Regions from separate parts of the Homo sapiens genome. Here all the other regions are linked to region 4. The links come from fine-mapping of genetic effects on gene expression. A gene starts in region 4. Each other region holds a variant in brackets. All regions are shown on one strand. Distances are between the middles of the regions.

Evidence for each region. PIP is the estimated chance that this variant, and not a neighbour inherited with it, causes the effect. A credible set is the group of variants that fine-mapping cannot tell apart.
Region 1: its variant is the best candidate, but not a certain one, in a credible set for the expression of HOXB2 in whole blood (TOPMed, PIP 0.75).
Region 2: its variant is the best candidate, but not a certain one, in a credible set for the expression of HOXB2 in whole blood (TOPMed, PIP 0.76).
Region 3: its variant is the best candidate, but not a certain one, in a credible set for the expression of HOXB2 in blood mononuclear cells (TOPMed, PIP 0.82).

The regions. Positions count from the first base shown.
Region 1 is chr17:47,979,204-47,984,321 of GRCh38, forward strand. It overlaps CDK5RAP3 (CDK5 regulatory subunit associated protein 3), which reads left to right. Exons shown (of 14, transcript NM_176096.3): 12 at 1,390-1,595; 13 at 1,960-2,131; 14 at 2,234-2,578. The coding sequence ends at 2,299. Among named protein-coding and RNA genes, the nearest start is that of CDK5RAP3, 11 kb to the left of the region's middle. The variant T/C (reference allele first, on the strand shown) is at 2,502.
Region 2 is chr17:48,512,489-48,517,608 of GRCh38, forward strand. No RefSeq gene overlaps it. Among named protein-coding and RNA genes, the nearest start is that of HOXB1, 16 kb to the right of the region's middle. RefSeq lists enhancers at 1,713-1,762, 4,040-4,550. The variant G/A (reference allele first, on the strand shown) is at 2,329.
Region 3 is chr17:48,467,861-48,472,997 of GRCh38, forward strand. No RefSeq gene overlaps it. Among named protein-coding and RNA genes, the nearest start is that of SKAP1, 40 kb to the left of the region's middle. The variant G/A (reference allele first, on the strand shown) is at 2,394.
Region 4 is chr17:48,542,266-48,547,393 of GRCh38, forward strand. It overlaps HOXB2 (homeobox B2), which reads right to left and starts at 2,844. Exons shown (of 2, transcript NM_002145.4): 1 at 2,256-2,844; 2 at 390-1,482. The coding sequence starts at 2,646. The coding sequence ends at 803. HOXB-AS1 (HOXB cluster antisense RNA 1) reads left to right here and starts at 2,086. Exons shown (of 7, transcript NR_102279.1): 1 at 2,086-2,147; 2 at 2,856-3,092; 3 at 3,230-3,299. RefSeq lists a silencer at 970-1,259 and an enhancer at 1,067-1,712.

The DNA.
Region 1 (5,118 bases), 560 kb before region 4:
AAGAAGATAAATAAATAAAATATGCAGGATGCTAGATGGCACCAAATGCCACGGAGAAAGAGAAAGTAGGGGAGGATGACGAGGATGTTGGAAAGGGCTATGGTTTTGTATCTGGTGGTCAGGGAAGGCCTCATTGAGAAGGTGACCTGTAATCAAGACTGCAGGCGGTGCAGAGAGAACCATGCAGATGTCTGGCAGAAGGGCTTCCCAGGCAGAGAGAGCAAGTGCAGAGGTCCCGAGGTGGGAGCAGACCTTGCACAGTTGACCAGCAACATGGAGGCTGGTGTGGCTGAGGAGAGAGAGCTGGTGGGGAGTAGAAGAGCTCAGAGATGTAGCGTCTGAACCTTGGTTTGCCTCTGAGTGAACTGGGAAGCTGTTGGAGGTTTCGAGCAGGTTAGGAACATGATCTCATTTGTGTTTAAGGACGATCCCTGTGGCTAAGGTGTTGAGCAGCCCAGCGTAAGGAGCCAGCGTTCTTGGACCTTTGTTGTAAGGCTGGGAGGACGGGGTCCTGTCTTTGTTAATCTCTGTATCTGCTCCCTTCCCAGTAGCCTGCTGGTTCGGAGAGCCTCCTGAAAGTTCTGTCCTCACCCAGTTCTCTCCTCTTTCTGCCCAGAGGCTCCTCCCAGCCTCAAGGGGAGAGGACAAAAGATATCTGTGAAGTTTTAACGGCAGAATAGGATTGATAAGTTAATATGGCTGGCTCTTGTATTCTTTTCAGCCTTGCCTTAATCCAGTGCTTCTCAAACATGTATTTCTGTTCCCTGAATCTCATTCCTCCCATGGAGACAAAATAAATACCTTCCCTGGGCAGAGAGAACCCTTTGAGTCTCTGTATTCTCAGTTATCTGATCCCAGGCTGGGGAGAAAGGACAGAGGTCTGGGGTTAGGATGAGATAGGAGGTGGGGACTGAAGGGTGACAGTAGTCTCTCCTAGCGCTTACAGTGTTCAGAGGAAACTCCTTACCCAGAGTCTAGCCCTCATGTCTCATTTTTGCATTTCGAGTAGTCCGAGGGCTTAGATTCTGAGTTCTTCTCTCAGTTTGAACCAATTTATCTTCTTTTTTTCTTTCTTCCTTTTTTTTTAAAAAGAGTTTCTCTGTCGCCCAGTCTGGAGTGCAGTGCAGCAATCATAGCTCACTATAACCTCAAACTCCTGGGCTCAAGTGATCCTCCCGCCTCAGCCTCCTGAGTAGCTGGGACTACAGGCATACACCACCATGTTTGGCTAATTTTAAACATTTCTGTAGAGACAGGGTCTCATCGTTTCCCAGGCTGGTCTTGAACTCCTGGCCTCAAGCGATCCTCCTGCCTTGGCCTCCCACAGTGCTGGAATTGCAAGTGTGAGCCATCATGTACAGCCTGAACCAATCTTTCTTCTGTCCTCAGCTTGAGATCTTCTTAGCCCAGAGAGCAGTGGAGTTGAGTGAGGAGGCAGATGTCCTGTCTGTGAGCCAGTTCCAGCTGGCTCCAGCCATCCTGCAGGGCCAGACCAAAGAGAAGATGGTTACCATGGTGTCAGTGCTGGAGGATCTGATTGGCAAGCTTACCAGTCTTCAGCTGCAACACCTGTTTATGATCCTGGCCTCACCAAGGTCTGGCTTCCCCTTGATGCAAGGCTCTGCCATCTTGAGCAGCTCTGCCTCCTTGTATTCCTCCTCTTGTTCCATGACCCCTTAAACCCCATCCCTGCCTCCTGGCCATTGCCATCCACTGGGGATAGGGGTTCTCTTTGGGACAAGAGGGGGAGGTTTCACATATACAGGAAGAATCTGCTTGCTTCCTGAGTAGGACAGGGGAACTGGGAGTGGGTTTTCCTTAAAAGGAAAGGGTTTAAGGATGTGAGGGTAAGCGGCCAGTTGGGGGTTTGGTTTCCCGAGCCTCTCACCTCCCCAGCAGCTGAATGGGAATGCTCAGGATGCACAGCTAACCCAGCACTCACCTGAGTGCCCCGCACAGGTATGTGGACCGAGTGACTGAATTCCTCCAGCAAAAGCTGAAGCAGTCCCAGCTGCTGGCTTTGAAGAAAGAGCTGATGGTGCAGAAGCAGCAGGAGGCACTTGAGGAGCAGGCGGCTCTGGAGCCTAAGCTGGACCTGCTACTGGAGAAGACCAAGGAGCTGCAGAAGCTGGTGAGATGGGAAAGGGAGGCCTGCCAGTGGGAGGACTCCCAGTCTGTGCAAAATGAGGCCCTGAGCACCCCTGCTTCTGCCCACTTGGTATCACTCTTTCAGATTGAAGCTGACATCTCCAAGAGGTACAGCGGGCGCCCTGTGAACCTGATGGGAACCTCTCTGTGACACCCTCCGTGTTCTTGCCTGCCCATCTTCTCCGCTTTTGGGATGAAGATGATAGCCAGGGCTGTTGTTTTGGGGCCCTTCAAGGCAAAAGACCAGGCTGACTGGAAGATGGAAAGCCACAGGAAGGAAGCGGCACCTGATGGTGATCTTGGCACTCTCCATGTTCTCTACAAGAAGCTGTGGTGATTGGCCCTGTGGTCTA[T/C]CAGGCGAAAACCACAGATTCTCCTTCTAGTTAGTATAGCGGACTTAATAAAAGAGGAAAAAACTCTTGCTTCAGTACTGACAGTTCCTTATGCTGCTTCTCTGAGCCTGCAGTTGAGGCTTCGCACCTGTTTTCGTGGGGTTCTTGATCCAGGTGGGCTCCCTGATCCAGGTGGGCTCCCCAGGCCATCAGCTGTCACTGTGGAGCCCCAAGTTGAGGACTTTTCCCCTTTGCTTCTGGTGATAAAGAGGACCCCACATCTACAAATGGTTCAGTAAGGGGCTCTGGGATGGCTACGTGTGGGCCCCTTTCCATAACCAGGCCCAGGCCGCCCGACTCAGGCCAGAAGCCCTGGGGGAGCGGTCAAGCAGCAGCCTTGTTGGAGCCAGCAAAGCTGCATTTTCCTTTTAATCACAGCTTACCTCCAGGCAGAGGGAAAATGCGGTTTGGGGAGGAAGGGTCTGATAAACAAGGTGGAGACAGGAGCTGTCACCTTCCCTGGCTGCCTGTCCACTTCCTGCCCATAACTGCCCGCTCTGTGATCGGATAGAGCCCACCCCAGGATAGCAGCCCTCTCCCAAGCCACCTACCCATCCCCATTTCCCAGGAAGGGTAGGGGTTGGGGGTGGCTGGCAATTCGATTTTAATTTCATAGCAGAGCAGTTGATTCATGGCTCTTTGTCGCTGGCGTTGACTCCCGTAATGACTTTCCATCAAAATGAAAAGTGGAGTGACACCACTCATTATTCCTGCTGCTTGTTATCTCAGTTCTGGGGAGGGCCACCCCCTCCCCACTGCCTTTCAGCCGTCCTGGACAGTGAGTGATGGCGCCTATTAATCACCGACCCCGCGGACTCCAGCCAAAGGAGAGAGAGATAAGGCAGCATGAACTGCTCGAAGCCGTTCCTATCAATTAATGTCAACCCACCACTTCCCCCCAATCTTTGCCTGGTCACCTCTTTCTGGGGGATCAGGGGCTGAAATGAGAAGTCCGGGAATTGGAAAAATATTGGTGTTGAACATGGAGGTAAGACTCCGCAGACTAGCAGGGTATAGAGGAGGTAAGTGGACTGCACTCTGGCCTCAACACTCAGGAGGGATGCTCTTGGCTTAGGGAACTGCCTGCTGCTCTTGGTCCCTCTCCCTCTGGGAGATTGCCTTCTAGCTCCTGCCCCACCTGTTCAGCTGCTGGCTCCGTTGGCCATCTGGCCAGCCTCTTGCAGTAGCAGTCAGTTCACTGAGGCATACTACCCTTGCCCACTCTAATGTCCTTTGCCCAGTCACCAGCTGTTACGCAGACTCCATTGCTTACAGCAATGGAGCTTCAGGGAGAAACCCCGTGGACCAGGTGACCATGGCAGACCGGGTTCAGGCCTCCAAAGCTTCTGCCCCTGCGCTTGCAGATGAGCACCTGACCTGCTTTCCCAGCCCTGCCTAAGGTCAGCGAGGGGAAGCAGTGCTCACTGAGGTTTGGCTATTTTCCCAGGAAGGGAAGTGGGTTTAGATAGAGTTTTCTCAGCTGATTTTGGCCCCCTTGGTAAGCAGTGTGGTTAGGCCACTGCTCTGGATCAGAGATACTAGGTGACTGCTTAACAGGTGACATCAAGGCCCACCCTGATCCCCAGGCTGAGGCAAGTGGTTTCATGAAAGCCTTTAACTCGATAACATTGGGTTTGTTCTCCAGAACCTTTAGCCTCCCTTTCCTTTACCGCCGCCTGCTTCCTGAGTCCAGCCCTCCTGGCCATGCTGAAGGCACTGAAGGGATCCACCCGGCTGGTTCTCCCTGGCAAGAGCAGCTCTGTGTCTTTCAGGTCTGCCTCCAGCTTCCCTGAGCTTCACTGGTTGTATTTGGGTTCCTGCTTGTGTATCTCAGAATGCCCTCAGAAGTCGTTGTAGGGACAGAATGAGTTAAGATATGCAGAGCTCTTAGAACGCTGCCTGGTGCGGAGGAGGCTCTTGGTGGACATGTGTGAGCTCTTATTTTTGGTTTGGGGAACCATGATGAGGACTCTCCATCCTGGCCTAACTTGTCTTCTTGGAAAGGAGAGGTGAGGGGCTTTAGGGGAGCTTGAGACCAAGTTTCAAGCAGTCAGGTTGAAACTTCCCTCTTTCAGGGAAAGAGGGAAGCGGTGCACCAAGATTACACCCTCAGAATCCTTAGTTTGATGTGAATTATGCTGCCAAGAGCACACTATACTTTTGTGTTGACTTTTATCCCACCTCTTTCCAGAGAGGATTTAAGGCAACGCCTCTCACTACTTGGCTAAGACTCCTCACCCGGCTTCAGATAAGGAAGCAGCGAGTCACCTTTCCAAAATTCTCTGCTTGCTAAATCCAGCCATGGCTCAGCCCCACTCACTGCCTCTCTGCCCAAACATTGCCTCTCTCCCTGCGTCAGTTCTACCGTGTCCTCTCCGGTGTGGTTCTCTTTATAGACCACAAAAGTAGGATCCCTTTGCACTGCAGCCTGCAGTGGCTGACTGTGAACATGGGATAAGTGGAGTGCTAAGGCTCGTTCATCTGGGCCCCAGCGGTCCACCCCCTGTGCCCCTCTGAGGGCCTGCCAGTATCATGGGGAGTCTGGCACATCTAGAATTCCTTTCCTATTGCCAGTTCA
Region 2 (5,120 bases), 30 kb before region 4:
GTGAAACTCCAACTCAAAAAAAAAAAGAAAAGAACAGAAAGGACTTATTAAAAATCAAGATAGAAAGAGTGCCACTTTTGTTGTTGTTCTGTTTTGTTTTTGTTTTGAGACAGAGTCTCTGTCTCCCAGGCTGGGGTGCTGTGGCACAATCTCGACTCACTGCATCTTCTGCCTCCCAGGTTCAAGTGATTCTCCTGCCTTAGCCTCCCAAGTAGCTGGGATTACAGGCGCATGCCACCACACCGGGCTAATTTTTGTATTTTTAGTAGAGACAGGAGTTCACCATGTTGACCAGGCTGGTCTTGAACTCCTGACCTCAGGGGATACACCTGCCTCAGCCTCCCAAAGATTACAGGTGTGAGCCACCACGCCTGGCCAAGAGTGCCATGTTTTAGAGGGACAAGTAACCAAGTAAGACTGAATCTCAAGGAAATATGAAAAGCCAGAAACATTAGGAACATGGGTCACAGTTCTTAAAGGAGAGAGTTACTTAAGCACCAACCTTCTGTTTATCTTCTTCTTCCCATTTTCAGAGCCTGTCTCCTAAAACCCAATATCTTTTCGTTCTTAGAATTTTCTCTCCTCCCAGGTATCCTTGCATTTTAAGATTTGCAGATACAACCTGGAATTGGTCTCTTCCTCATTGTAGATTTCAGATTTTTTGACCCCACACAGTACGTCCTACCTGCCCACTCTGCCCTTTAATGGGCTTATCTTGGCTCTCTCGCCATGACACTCCCTGAAAGCTTGTCATGTGTGGAGAGCTCTCGGTTTCCTCTGATATCGCCTCCAGCTTATTGAAATTCCGTGGGCCTCCATTTCTGTAGCTACCAATCAGGGCTGATGATGGGAGAGGTGAAAGTGAAAGTGCAGGAGACTCATGAGGCTTTAACTTGGTCTTATAAAAAGAAGCTGTAAATCCCACCCCACCCCCTTATACTCTCACTGTCGTTTAATGATTTTTACTGATTCTCGGCAAAAATTGATATTCCCCTTGGTCAGGGGGCTGAGTGACTATCTGCAAAGTAAGTGAAATATTGCAGATTTGGAGTCCCTTAGCTTGTGAAAATTACCAAGACCCATTATTTCAGCTGGTTGTCTCCAGGCCGGCTCCAACATATGAAAAAAGAACTTGTAAGGTGCCTGGATCCTGCCTTCCCATAAACTATTTAATCTGTTTGACACCTCTTGCTGGTAAAAGCTCAGGTAAAGACATACTGAAGCTAGACGAGAGCTAGGATCTCTAAATATGTTGAAAATGTTATCTGTTCTTTCTCAAATATGTCTCTCCTATTCAGGTATTTGCTCTGTGATAGCCTTTTACCTTGGCAGCCACTGAGGCTCTGTGCCTTGTATTTCAAAACTGATAAGGAAAGGCAAGATCCTCCCACACTGTTCCCTCAGAGCACTTGGTGAGGATGGGCCATATGTGATGTGGACCGCGTGGCCTCGCTACCAGTGGCTCACCCACCTCCCCCTTCTTGTGCATGCCTTGCTCATCTAGAGAGCAGAAGGTAATGGGAAGGAGAAAATAAATGGGCTTTCTCTGAGGATCTCACACAGGCACTCCAGTGATCTCCTTATCTGCAGACTTGGCAAATTCTTTACAACATCTGATCAAGGAAGGGCTTTTTTGATGTTTCTGCATGTTCTCGATTTACTGCCCTGCTGCTGGGATATGACGAGATGCCTGTATCAGGAGCCCCTCAGAGCTTTCCAGATGGGCTGCAAAGTCTGCATATTTTTAAATAAACAACAAGCTAGTCTCAGAATGTGGCTTCTTTGGGGTTAAAGCAACATTTGCATAAAGCAGAAGAGCAGATGCCAGACCCAAGTTATCTACTGCCCCTAATCTGGCTCTGTGTCCCTTTCCTCTCCTCTGCCTGCCTCTCCCCATCATGTTAATTCTGCTGTCAGGACCCTCTACAGGTTCCCCAGGACCTGGGCTGAGTTATAGGATGGGAAGCTGCTTGTAGCCTCCAGGTTTCTGCCTTCCATCTGCCTTGCAGCTGGCTCTGCAGTCCAATGATGGGAGATTCACAGGTGAAAGGAGTTGGACATTTGGACTTTTGATCTGCTTATTCCCCAAAGTCTTCAAAGCTCTGACCCATATATCTACCATGATGGGGTTTTTAACAAGGTGGGGGAGGAAGCGATGTGCAGGGAGGCTGATTCATGTGAGGGCAGGAAACTGGGCAATGCTGTGGTCTCTAACTCTGGGACTGAAAGCCCCCACTTCTTACTCCTCCCTGTATCATGACTCCCACTATCTGGATAGTCATAGCATTCCATGCCCATTGGAAGGATTTAGAAAGAGATGTCCTCAAA[G/A]AAAACGCTTCTCAAATTCATTTTAATAACCCCCTTCTCATTTTCCCAGGCTTGCTGTGGTATAGAAACTGGAACCTTCAACTGCAAGATCAGTCACGTTCAAACAATATCTTTCCAAACATGGAGAAGACCACCCCAAGCGGAAGATCCCTAAAGCAAAACTACCCATCACCACCAAGCCATGGACTATTAGAGGTTTTCGCAAAATCTGAGTCAGTGTCTGACTTGGACTCTATTTGCAGTGATTCTCATCTTAAAGGGTTACACAGAGAGGGGTATTCTCTTGCTGAACCTGATGATCTTGGCTATTTGGGCAGTCTGCTTGATTTTTCTTTTCCAAAAGGAAAAAGAGGAGGGAGTGACCTAAGACGCTAAACAATGCTTGATGATCTGATACCTAGGGGTAGTGTTGAGGAGTAGGGAGAAAGAGAGGCCATCATCCTAAATGTACTGCATATTCAACATATGTAAATGTATATAAATTCTTGAGGACCAGAGGCAGAAAAAGAAAATTATATGTTGCTTTTCAGATATATGATCTGGAATACATTACTTATTTTCTCCAAGCCTTGGGCTCTTCATATGTAAAGTGAGAATAATGATCATACTAACCTCCCAGAGATGTAGTGAGAAATAAGCGCTAATAGCAAAGTGCTAGATAAATGTCAATAACAATAACGACAACAAAGCTAGTAACAGCTGCCACCAAGGAGGAAGGTGGGGATACAGTTTCATGAAAGAAATAGATAGTCAGGCATCGTAGCTCATGTCTGTAATCCCAGTGACTCAGGAGGCTGTGGCTGGAGGATTGCTTGAGCCGAGGAGTTCCAGACCAGCCTGGGCAACTTAGTGAGGCTCTGTCTCTAAAAAAAATGAAATAAATTCGTCAAGCGTGGTGACACACACCTGTAGTCCCAGCTACTTGGGAGGCTAACTTGTGAGGATCCCTTGAGATCTCTTGAGCCCAGGAGTTTGAGGCTGCAGTGAGCTATGATGGCATCACTATACCCCAGCACGGGCAACAGAGCTAGACCCTGTTTCTAAAAAAGAAAAGAAAAGAAAAGAGAGAGAGAGGAAAGAAAGAAAGAGAGGAAGAAGGAAGGAAAAAGGAAGGAAGGAAGGAAGGAAAAGGGAGGGAGGAAGGAAGGAAGGAAAGAAGGAAGGGAGGGAGGAAGAGAGAGAAGGAGGGAGGAAAGGAGGGAGGGAGGAAGAGAGAGAAGGAGGGAGGAAAGGAGGGAGGGAGGAAGAGAGAGAAGGAGGGAGGAAGGGAGGGAGGGAGGAATGAAGGAATTACCTGAACAGCAATGGAAAAGAGGAGTGGAAATAGTTAGCTTCCCTAGCCTAGGTCATCTGCACTTCCTTCCCTTGAGATAACAGGGCCTCTCCTTCTCACCTGTCCACATTGTTTCTCTGCACTAATGCTCCTTTCCCTTCTCATAAATTACAGATTCTACTCGGCAAATGTTTGCTTGCCACAAATGGCTGCTGATGTGGCAGCTCCCTTTCTGAGCTTGGAGATTTGTATGGATTAAGGTATCAGTGACTGATGCAGCCCCAGAGCTCAAGTAGATGGACACAATTTGCAAGAGAAAGAGAATTCCTCTCATTTCTCACTCCCAGCCTGCCCCATAGTCCTTCCCTGCCCCGGCTATCCTGCTTATGTCAATAGAAACACAGTGCTAGCTCAAGGGATATAGTATTCTCACTGTATTAGAATTTATCTGATTATACAATATTTTCTATTCAGTTCTGGATACCTCATTTTATAGAATATATTAACTAAGGAAGGAAGAACAGAGTGAGGAAAGATCTGGAAATCAGGTCTCAGGAGGAACAAATGAAGAAATTGAGAATGTATATTGCTCAACAGAGGGAAAGACCTATGGGCACACAGGACAGCTGTCTTCAAATATTTGGAGAGGTAGCGTAGGGAAAAGGAGTTAAGAGTTATTGTGTTGGCTCCAGAGGGCAACAAAGAAGTAGAATCAATGGGTGTAAGTGCCAAGAAGGCAAACTCCCATTCCATATAAAGAACCATTCTATCATTTACAGCAGCCTAACATTATGGGAGTCTTCCTTATAAATAGTGATCTCTGCCAGGCACAGTGGCTCATGCTTATAATCCCAGCACTTTGGGAGGCTGAGGAAGGCAGATCACTTGAGGTCAGGAGTTCGAGACCAGCCTGGCCAACATGAAGAAACCCCGTCTCTACTAAGAAATACAAAAATTAGCCAGGCATGGTGGCGGGTGCCTGTAATCTCAGCTACTTGGGAGGCTGAGGCAGGGAGAATTGCTTGAATCCAGGAGGTGGAGGTTGCAGTGAGCTGAGATTGTACCACTGCACTCCAGCCTGAGTGACAGAGCGAGACTCCGTCTCAAAAAAAAAAAAAAAAAAGAAAACAAACAAAAAACCAAAAACCCACCATCTCAGTCTTCTTGTTTTTTGAGACAGGGTCTCACTCTGTTGCCCAGGCTGGAGTGCAGTGGCGCTATCTTGGCTCACTGCAGACTGCCTCCTGGGCTCAAGCGATCTTCCACATCAGCCTCCTGAGTAGCTACAGGTATGCACTACCATGCCTGGCTAATTTTGTTCATTTTTTTATAGAGACAGTCTCCCTATGTTGCTCAGGCTGGTCTTGAGCTCCTGGGTTCAAGGGGTCCTCCCACCTTGGCTTCCAAAAGTGTTGGGTTTACAGGTGTGAGCCACTGCAACCAGCCTCCAGCTGAGATTTAAAGCCTGCCTCAATTGAAAGGAGAGGATGGAAGAGGGCTCCTCTAGGTTTCCACATGA
Region 3 (5,137 bases), 74 kb before region 4:
ATAGTGACTTTACCTGAAGTTTTTATAGGGAAACAGGAGAATGCATTTATAATTTTTTATGCAGCAAGCCACTGGAAAAGGCTGAGGGTAGCATCAGGATATTTATTCCCCCAGCTGGGCCTCAGGTTGACAGTGGCTATGTTCCTCAACTAAAGGCCACAGCTCCTGTGGGCCAACCCTCTCCTACAACTCTCTCCAGACTGTGAGGACTGCTCCTTCCCAATCCTTTAGGCCTCGAGTGGTCATTATTCCCTATTCTGGCTAACCGCACCATTTCTTATGGGTTTCTCTGAACCCTGCCCATATCTTTGTAAATATGCCTGCATTAAACTTTACTCAGACAAACCCCATTTGAGTGTGCCATCTGTTTTCCAACAGGACTGTGATCAATAAGGTACCCTGGAGAACAGAACCAGAAAGAATTCTTGCTCATGGCTAGGGAATTGACCTAGATGAGTATTTTCAATTAAAGAATCTTTGAGATCGAAATAACCATTTTTCAATTCAGCATGTTATTTCTTCGTGAATCTTGTTTTTAGAAATGAAAAATATATCACAGAAGCACTTGGCACTTTCTCCAACATGCCTCAGCTTCTGTGCTCCGGCCTGCCTGAGTGCAGGTGCAAGTGCAGGTCACAAGGAGGGAAGTGAAGCTGCCACATTCTTGCTCATGAGCACTGATTGTTAAACTGTCAAGAATTTTGCAAAAATAAATTGTTTTTAAAAAGAACTAAAATTGGCCAGATGTTGTGGCTCATGCCTGTAATCCCAGCACTTTCAGAGGCCGAGGCAGGCACATCACCTGAGGTCAGGAGTTGGAGACCAGCCTGGCCATCATGGTGAAACCCTGTCACTACTAAAAATACAAAAATCAGCCAGGCATGGTGGTGGGTGCCTATAATCCCAGCTACTCAGGAGGCTGAGGCAGGAGAGTTTCTTGAACCCAGGAAGCAGAGGTTGCAGTGAGCTGAGATCACACCATTGCACTCCAGCCTGGGCAATAAGAGCAAAACTCCGTCTCAAAAAAAAAGAAAAGAAAACAAACTAAAATGGTATAAAGTTACAATAAATTATATGTATATATATACAAACATATATATTTATGCACACACACACACACACACATATATATATAGGTTTTTTTGAGACTGAGTCTCATTCTGTCACCCTTGAACCTCCCAGGTTCAAGCGATTCTCATGCCTCAGCCTCCCAAGTAGCTGAGATTACAGGTGTGTGACAAAATGCCTGGCTAATTTTTGTATTTTTATTAGAGACGGAGTTTTGCCATGTTGGCCAGGCTGGTCTTGAACTCCTGACCTCAAATGATCCTCCCGCCTCAGCCTCCCAAAGTACTGGGATTATAGGTGTGAGCCACCGTGCCTATACGTGGCCCAAATTATATTAAAAGAAAAAAAGATACTAAATATCATCACTTCCTAATTATTTTGCTAAATTTCATTGCTATCTAACCTTTTAGGGTTATTTATGTCTGGTGTACCTAGGTGGTAGAAACACTATAACTGCACATCTCTTCCTAATCCTGTTTTCAATGATGTCATGAAGAAAGTTGAAATCAGGCATGGTGGAATTATTTACACCAAGGAAATAGACGAATGCAACAAATCAGGACTTAACTTTTTTTCTGGAAAGCTGTTTGTTAAATATTTTCCAGGAGAAAGGGAATCCTTTGAGATGATCATGTTATTTGGACTTGTGTGGTTTTAAGGGAGATCCATATGCTTGGTTTCTATTGTGAGAAAGCAAAGTGCAATAGACTTGGCACTGGACTAGAAAGGACAAACTAAACTGTTCTCTCTAAACAGGAGTGAAGGTTAGTTCTCTTTGGCTTCTTAGGACAGGATGGATTAAGTAGACCTTTTAGCATGGGGAGATGTGTATTATATTAATAAATAGCTTTCTTTCACAGTTGTTTGTTTAAAATCTCTGAAAGTACTTTACATCTATGACCTCTTTCATCTATCAAGTATCTGAGTGACCAAGGAAAGAAGCAATAAAGATTTTTGTGTTTTTTTTGTGACAGAGTCTCGCTCTGTCACCTAGGCTGGAGTGCAGTGGCACAATCTTGGCTCACTGCACCCTCTGTCTCCTGGGTTCAGGCAATTCTCCTGCCTTAGCCTCCCGAGTAGCTGGGACTACAGGCGCACGCCACCATGCCCGGCTAATTTTTGTATAGAGATGGGGTTTTGCCATGTTGGCCAGGCTGGTCTCGAACCCCTGGCATCAAGCAATCCACCTGCTTCAGCCTCCCAAAATGCTGGGATTACGGGAGTCAGCCACTGTGCCCAGCCAAGATACTTCTTAAATATAGAAAAACTGGGGACCCATGGAGGTTAAGTGACCTTTTTAACCTCAAAAACTGAGGCCCAGAAGG[G/A]CAACGCACTACAGTATCCAGAGCCCTCCTCCAACAGCTGTCACTTGTGTGACCTTGAGCAAGTTGTCCATATTTTCTGAGCCTGTATCTTCATCTGTGAAAAGTTATAGGGGAAATAAATGAAAGAATATGTGTAAATCACCAGATTTTGTGATTGATGTTCTAAAAATTGTGAGTTTAATAGATATACTCAAAGATTTTGTAGGGGAGAAAGAGAGAGCTTACATTATGCAGCACAGACAACTTGAAGGGGCACAATGGGCATCATTGTTGTTAAACACCCATTTGTCAATCCAACGGTATGGAGTTTCACTTCTCCCTTCTCCACACCTGGCCTCTCTCCATCCCGTTGGTGCCTTGCTCCTCCTCCTCTTTTTTCTCTTCTCTCTCTCATGCAGAGCAATATTCTCCCTTCTCTGAAGTTGTGAGCACATCTGCCATGTGTTAAGCACATCAAGGCATTCTTCTAAGCAGAATTCCCTTCCTAAGAGAAATTCTGTTAGTAAAGTTGTTACTTTATTATACATACGGAATCATTTGCAAAGGGTATTCCCATTCACTATTTCCTTTGAATCTCAGAGCCACCCTGTGGCAAGAATTACAATTATAACCACTTTACATTGGGAGATACCGAAGCTTAGGGAATTGCTCAGGGTCATAACTTAAAAGTGGCTGAGGGGCTGAGCGTGGTGACTCATGCCTGTAATTCCAGCACTTTGAGAGGCTGAGGCAGGAGGATCTCTTGAGCCCAGGAGTTCAAGACCAGCCCGGGGAACATAGTGAGATCTTGTCTCAACAAAATATTTTTAAAATTAGCTGGGGGTGTTTCTCCCAGCTACTTGGGAGGCTAAGGTGGGTGGATCACTTGAGCCTGAGAGGTTGAGGCTGTGGTGAGCCATGGTCACACCACCGCACTCCAGCCTGGGTGACAAAGCATAAGAGACCCTGTCTCAAAAAAAAAAAAAAAAAAAAAAAAAAAGACTGAGGCAGGAATTGAACCTGGCAAGGTACCTCACAGCATGCTGGTCGTGCTTCCTCACTCTTCAGAGGCGGCATGTTCTAGTTGGCCTCCTGAAGGAAACTACTAATTTTGTTTTCTCTGCCATTCAGTGAGCATCTAGATTGAGAGCCCCACATAGGTCACTTCCTGAGCAAGATGTCAGGAGCTGGGTTAGGGTTGTAATTCCTTTCCTAGCTTGTTGTACAGCCTCGAGCAAGGAGAAGATTTGAGAGGCAGAAAGGTAGCGCGTTGGGAAAAAATGCTATGTTCCAGGCATTATATGCTAGAACTTTACATTGATTACTTCATCTAATCTTCACTAGAATTCTGTGTGAGATAGCATCAATATTTTAATTTTAAGTAAAATTAAATTGTGGAAACTGAGGCTCAAAGAGCTGATGAAATTTGTTCATGGTCATACGGATAAGAAATGATGGAGATGGGATTTGAATCTTTGTCTCTGGGACTCTAAATTCTATCTGCATTTCCTCATGTCATGTTGTCCCTCTGGGCCTTGGGGCCTTTTTAAAATGTAAATCCAGGCAACTAACTCCTCTGAATCCCACCTCACATGTCTGTCAACTGCTGGATTATGTTCCTAATCCGGCAGGGGTCGCAAGGCTGGGAAACCTTCATGCCACTATCAATCTTCTCCCCAGTTCAGAGGTCAGAGGCTCTCTTTACTCCAGCCCCCTCCTCCACCTCTGGGATGGGGCCACATTTCACCTGAGGATTAACAGCCACACCTCTCTACTTCTGCGGAGGATAGAGGGCGACTATGAAGGATGGTGTGTCTCCCCACCCACATCTCATACCTAGCCTGGGGCGGACTGTTCATTAGGGGCAGGCAGGGAGGAGGCGAACCAAGATAGCACAGAGATCCATCAAGGTGCCAAGCTGACAGGTGCACACACCTGTTTCTAGCCAGAGGAGCTAGAGGCCAGTGGGAACCTGCCTCATAGGAGAGGACTTTGTCTGGAAAGAGAAGGGAGGAAGAAAAAACAACAACAGCAACTGAGAGTGGATCACTCTAATTACATGGCTCTAAATCACCGAGAAGAACCTTGGCTCAAACATCCAAGTGGTGGAGGATGGATTTTTACCTTGACTCCCGCTAATTTTCATTGATTTATGGGGCTTGAAAGCATTTATTTTCTGCTCAGAGGCAGCCCAGCTCCTGCTAAGGAGGTGCAGGACTCCCCTAAATGCTGTCACCATGGAGAGGCGAGCAGCAGAGGTGGCTCTCAGGGCAACAGCTACATTTCCTGCTCAGTTCCAGTTGCTACCTAAGAGCTGGGAGGGTCCAATGGGAGCTGCTGGCCCTGCTGTGACAGCCTCCCCACTCCTGTCCCCAGAGCCTGCCTGCTTCTGGTCACAGCTACTTGAGTTTAACACTCCTGGCAGCTTAGCACTCTGGTTTTTATGTGTGAAGCCGTAATATTTGGTGAGCTGTGAGATGAGGTGGCAAGATTTGCAACTGGCATTCCCTTCCGGCCCTGCCCTGTGATTCAGGTCAGTGGTGTGACAAAGTGAGGCCACCCCTCCTCCCCACTCTGGCTTCCCACCTGTGGCTATTTGGAATGATGTCTTTCCTTCGTTTTCTCCTCTTCCCCCATCCCATGCCTGATAGACTCCCGTAGCTCTTGGCTTTCAAAAGGGGGTATTCAGTCCTCACATTCCAAACCATCTGCTCAATTAAACATTTTAAACAGCAATTCTGAGTCTGCCCAGGACCACATTCCAA
Region 4 (5,128 bases):
CAGTAAACTTCTGCCCCCGCCACGACCCTGAAGACTGTCCACAGGCTTCCTCTCCTTTCACCCTCCTCTGTTCGCTGTACACTCTCTCCCTCGACCTGCCCATCTCTATTTCCAAGCAGAGGCCCCAGAACCACCCGCTCAGGACCAAAGACCCTCTGCTGAGGGGCGGGGAGGTGACCCAGCTTCCTGCAAACTCCCGACTTTTGCCGGAGCCGTGGGCGAAGCGGCCATCAATCGGGTCACCTTTGTACCACCCGGACTTCGCCGGCCCTGGAGGCTTTGCTGCCATATGGGCCGCTGAACCTAATCAACTTCGCACAGGTCCTGGAGGGGTGAGGACCGGCCTTGGGGCCGCGGGGAAAGAGTTTAGGTCCCAACACAAACACTCGTTTTGGTATTATAAAGACATTTATTTAATCTATGAAAATAATGTACAATAAATACTTTCCCCTTTTCCTATTATTAAAGAATTTTAATAAATAATCTACAGTCTAAAACATAAAAAAGAGGAAAATAGGTCCCTCTAGTTATTTTTAAGAAAGTCCCCCTAGAGTTTAATTATTCCTGAGATTTCATTGGAAGGAGTCTACCAAACGGAATTTTTCTGTGTGAATTTTAAAAGATAACCGAGTGCCCAATATTTTAGAAGAAGAAGAAAGGGAGTGGATTAAACGCTAATTCAGTAATACCTGAATTTTAGCAAAACACATAAGTCTATGCGACTGAGGGTGGGAGAGGCTCGATTTTTCCAGTAGACGGCCAAGGAGCGCGGGGGTCGAAAGGACCGGGAGGAGGAAACAGGTTAGGGAAACTGCAGGTCGATGGCACAGAGCGTACTGGTGAAAAAATCCAGCTCTTCCTCGGAAAAAGGGACCGGGCTGTCGAGAGAACCCTGTAGGCTAGGGGAGAGGCCTCCGGATAGCTGGAGACAGGAGTCGGCCGCGAAGAAGTTGAGGTCGGGAAGGAAAGGTGAATCCTGGCGCCCCGAGAAGACGTCTTCTGGCAATGGCCCGGGCTCCAGCCCGCCGGCCCCGCGCAGCGCGCAGCCGGGACTCGACGCGCCTGCGCCCTCTAAGCGAACGGCTAAAGGCCGGGGGTCCGCGCTTAAGGCCCCCGGCACCACCTCCGGCGGGTGACAGCAGGCTTCCCACGCCGCCCGCGAGGCGGAGGGGCCGCCCGGGCTGGCCGCGGGTTCCTCGGCAGGGTCGCAGATGTCCTCCAGGGCTCCCGGGCAGGCAGGCTCCCCATCCGGCGGCTCTCGGTGCTGCGTCTGCCGCTTGTGCTTCATGCGCCGGTTCTGAAACCAGACTTTGACCTGCCTTTCGGTGAGGTCCAGCAAGGCCGCGATCTCGACGCGGCGTGGCCGGCACAGGTACTTATTAAAGTGGAATTCCTTCTCCAGTTCCAGCAGCTGCGTGTTGGTGTAAGCCGTGCGCAGCCTGCGCGCCCCGCCGCCACCAGCCTCCGGCAGTCCCAGGCCATCTGCAGGGAAAACAGGCTCGGCGTCATAGCGGGCCGTGTACTCAGCCCAACCTCAGTTCGGACTACCCCATCCTCCAAAACCAGTATCACCTCTCCCCTTCCTCGCCACCCCACCCCCGCCCCCACCCCAAAGCCGCTCGCTTTACTGCTTTTGGGTTTTCTTCTCTCCCTCTCTAGTCTACAGCCCCGGCCCGGGTCAGGGCAAAGCATTCAGAGCCGCCCACGGGCCACGCAGGGGGCGGAGAGCGGCTCCCTTCGGCGCCGGAACCTCAGATCCCCCTCCCAAGCCCTCCCAGTGGACCCCTCAATTCGGAACTTTCCAACTCAACCGGAGCGAGGGTCAGAAAGATTGTTCTTCACCCCTCTTCCTCCCTAGCTCTGAATTCTTCCTCTTCTCCTAGAGTTGGGGCAGAAAGGACCGAATCTTTTCTGCTTCTAGGGTCTATCCCAGCAACAACATACTCATTCCCCTACACAGATACGGGTGAAAACCTCAATCAAATCATTTTCTTCTAGCAGAAAAAAAGGCGTTTCCCCAACCAGCTTCCAAAATCAGCCATAGGGAGAGAAAGAGAGAGAGAGACAGAAAAAAAAAAAGACGCTGTTAGCGGCCAGGCCTGAACCCCAGTGGGATATTCTACTTCCCCATCCCAGGAATGGAGGGGGTAAGGAACCCCAACAGGCTCGCCACCATTTTTTTTAAACCTCCTTCCACTGCTTTTTCTCCCCCTCTTCTAGCTGCCCCTCACCCCACCCCCACCACGCTTACCGACCTGCAGGCGATCCGACCCCGGAGGCCGGAACGGCGGAGGCGGCCGGAGAAGGAGACGTGGCGGATTGGCTGGGTTTCTTGGCGGATTTCTTCTCTTTCATCCAAGGGAACTCGGGGGCCGGGGGGGCAGCGGGGAGTGGCGGCGGCGGTGGCGGCGGCAGAGCAGGCCCATCTTCGGCTCGCTTTTGGCTCCTGGGTCTCTGAAGGGTGGAGGCGCCGGGCTGGAGGCTGGGGAAGGTTTGCTCGAAAGGAGGAGGAGGAGGAATTAATGTCGACTCCTTGATTGATGAAGTTTGAAATGTCTCCAAGACAGCGGGGAAGGAAGTCAGACACTCGGCGAGCGACGGCTGGCTGTTTATAAACCCAATCTCCCTCTCAAATTCAAAATTCATGGCTTTCAATGGTGGGGGAGGGGGCTGCTGGGGGGGGCGTCAGGAGGGAGGATCGGAAGGGACCCCCCTCCTGCACCCCCCCCGATTTATGTAATGGAGCGATTTTGGGAGGGGGAGATTTCGGTCTCTCTTTTTTTTAATTTTGGGCCTTTATAATTGTATATTGCTGATAAATACAAGCGTATGGGGACTCTCTCTATTAAACCCAGGACTCCAGCGAAATTACAGGGAATTCGTGGTCACGGGACCGGCCTCCGCCAATCGCTCGTCTGGGCCTGGTGGAAAACAGAGAGCATTATTTGGTTTAATTGATTCAAAAACACCAGAGGACCACGACCAGGACACCATGAGCCCCCATTCCTACACCAGTGCCTCACATGCTCTCTCCCCAATGCCTCCGTTTCTCCAGAAAAGCTAGAGGAACCTTTTCCTCATCCCCTTCGAAGGTTAGAAGGTTTCAGAAGCCTGGAAAAGAAGAGACTCTAAGGGAGAAACCTTCCTCTTTTCCAAGTATTTTAATAGAGTAAATTAAGGCCTTCTTTACGTGGCCAGCAGCATCCCCTTCCCTTCTCCCCTTCCCCAGGAAAAGATGAGTGAGGATCTCCGCGTTGGAGGAAGAGGGAGTCGAAAGAGGCTTCCACTCTTTGAAAAAGGTCAGTATTAAGGTGAAAATAAGAAAGAGATTTACAATCATCACACCACTATCCCTGTTACCCTCCAAAAACAACAGTTAAATCTTGGGAAATGGACAGGAACTCCCAGGCAGACACATAGGAGTGAGATGGAGCATAAGGGGCATTTTTGGGCCTCTGGCCTCCATCGCTGTATGGTCTGGGTTCTCTTCTCTGCCCAGTGTTTGCAGCACTGCCTCTGCCCCTTATGTACCCCTGCTTTCCTCACTTTCAGGCTTCCATGCTTCTCTGTGACATCCCCCAAAAACAGGCAGAGTCTAAGATGTGCATGTACCCACTCAAGCCTCAAGCTTGTATCTGTATCCATATCCAGGGACATGAACAAGAACTGAGGTAGCCATTGGTTTAACTTAGAGCACTCTCAAAGTTCAGATCAGCGTTATGTGTGTGCATGAGTGTGGTGGGGAGATTTTCCCCTAGGACAAAGAGACTTTCCCTCCCATTTTTGCCATTGTGCTAGTTAAAAAAGAAAAAAGAAAAAAAAAAAAAAAAGAATCCCTGACAAGGAAGAATTCCCTGAAGATGGTAGGGGTGGAAATAATGACCACTGAGATGATATTCCATTTCTGGCTGCTGGGGGAAAATGTTTTTAAAATTTATTTTATTTTGAGGAGACCAAGATAGTCTGAAGTTTAGAGTGTTGTAATTTACTATGGGGAGAGGGCACAAGACTCTGAGCCCCAAGCAATTGGTGGGAAACTAGGCCTCAAAGCAGAAAATGAAAAGTCGATCTGGGGGAAGATTTTTAAATAAGTGGGTCAGACGGATGGAGAGGAGATGAGGCGATCAATCTTAGCCCCCTGACAGCTCCCTCCGATTGCATCAAAGAATTTGGCTCTTTGGGAAAGCAGAGCGAACAGCCAAAATTTCACATCCCTTAAAAAGGCCTGGGGGTGGGGGTGGGGGTGCAAAAGAGAAGGGTGATTCTGGGAGAGCTGGGAAACAGATGGGAAATGGGGACAGAGGGAAAGCGCTAAGTTGGGTGGAAAGTTTGCCTGGAGAACTCCCATGGCTTTGGCCTCCCCTCCCCCTCCTCTCTCTCTGCTGCCCAGCCAGGAGGAGAAGGCTGGTTAGCAGAGAAATGGCAACTGAGCCCGGAGCTGGAACTAGAAACTTTCTGTCAGTGTAACATCTGCGTGAGTACTTAAAAAGAAGGACAGAGAAGTCTGAGTAGAAGCATGAGGGTGGGGGAGAGGAGGATGGAGAAAGGGGAGTTGGAGGTGGGGGCTGCAGGGACCGAGGAGGCATGCTCTGGAGGGCTCAGAACAGAGAGAGCTGCTCTGACCTGGGCAAAGTGGCCAGCGACAGTAGTGTGCAACTAGGCTCCAAAGAAAACAATTTTTGCCATTTAGAGGTGTGGATGGGGGTGGGCATAGAATAATCCAAATAGTAGCTGTCTGGAAGTCATGCAGGGAGGCCTGAGAGTGGGTTCTCCCTCTGGCCACCCCCTTGAACACCTCTGAAAGTTTAGCAACAGCTTCTGTAGCTGGCTGAAGGATCCAGAGCTTATCTCAGGCAACTCGGGCAGACTGTCCCTGCAGGAAATACAGCTCTCTCTAACCCTCACTGACAGATTTTATGGCCAGATTAGCAAACAGCGGAAAACTTGGGTGTTAAAAGGGGCCCAGAGAACCCTCCTTTTCAGAGACATCCCTCCCCCGCCCCCCTGTCCTGCTGTGAATTTAACAGCACGGATATTTTACCCACGTCTTTGGCTGCTTTAGCTGAGCGCCTGGAATCTTCCAAAGAGAAGGATAGGGAACACCAAGCCAAGTTGGTTCTTATTTTTC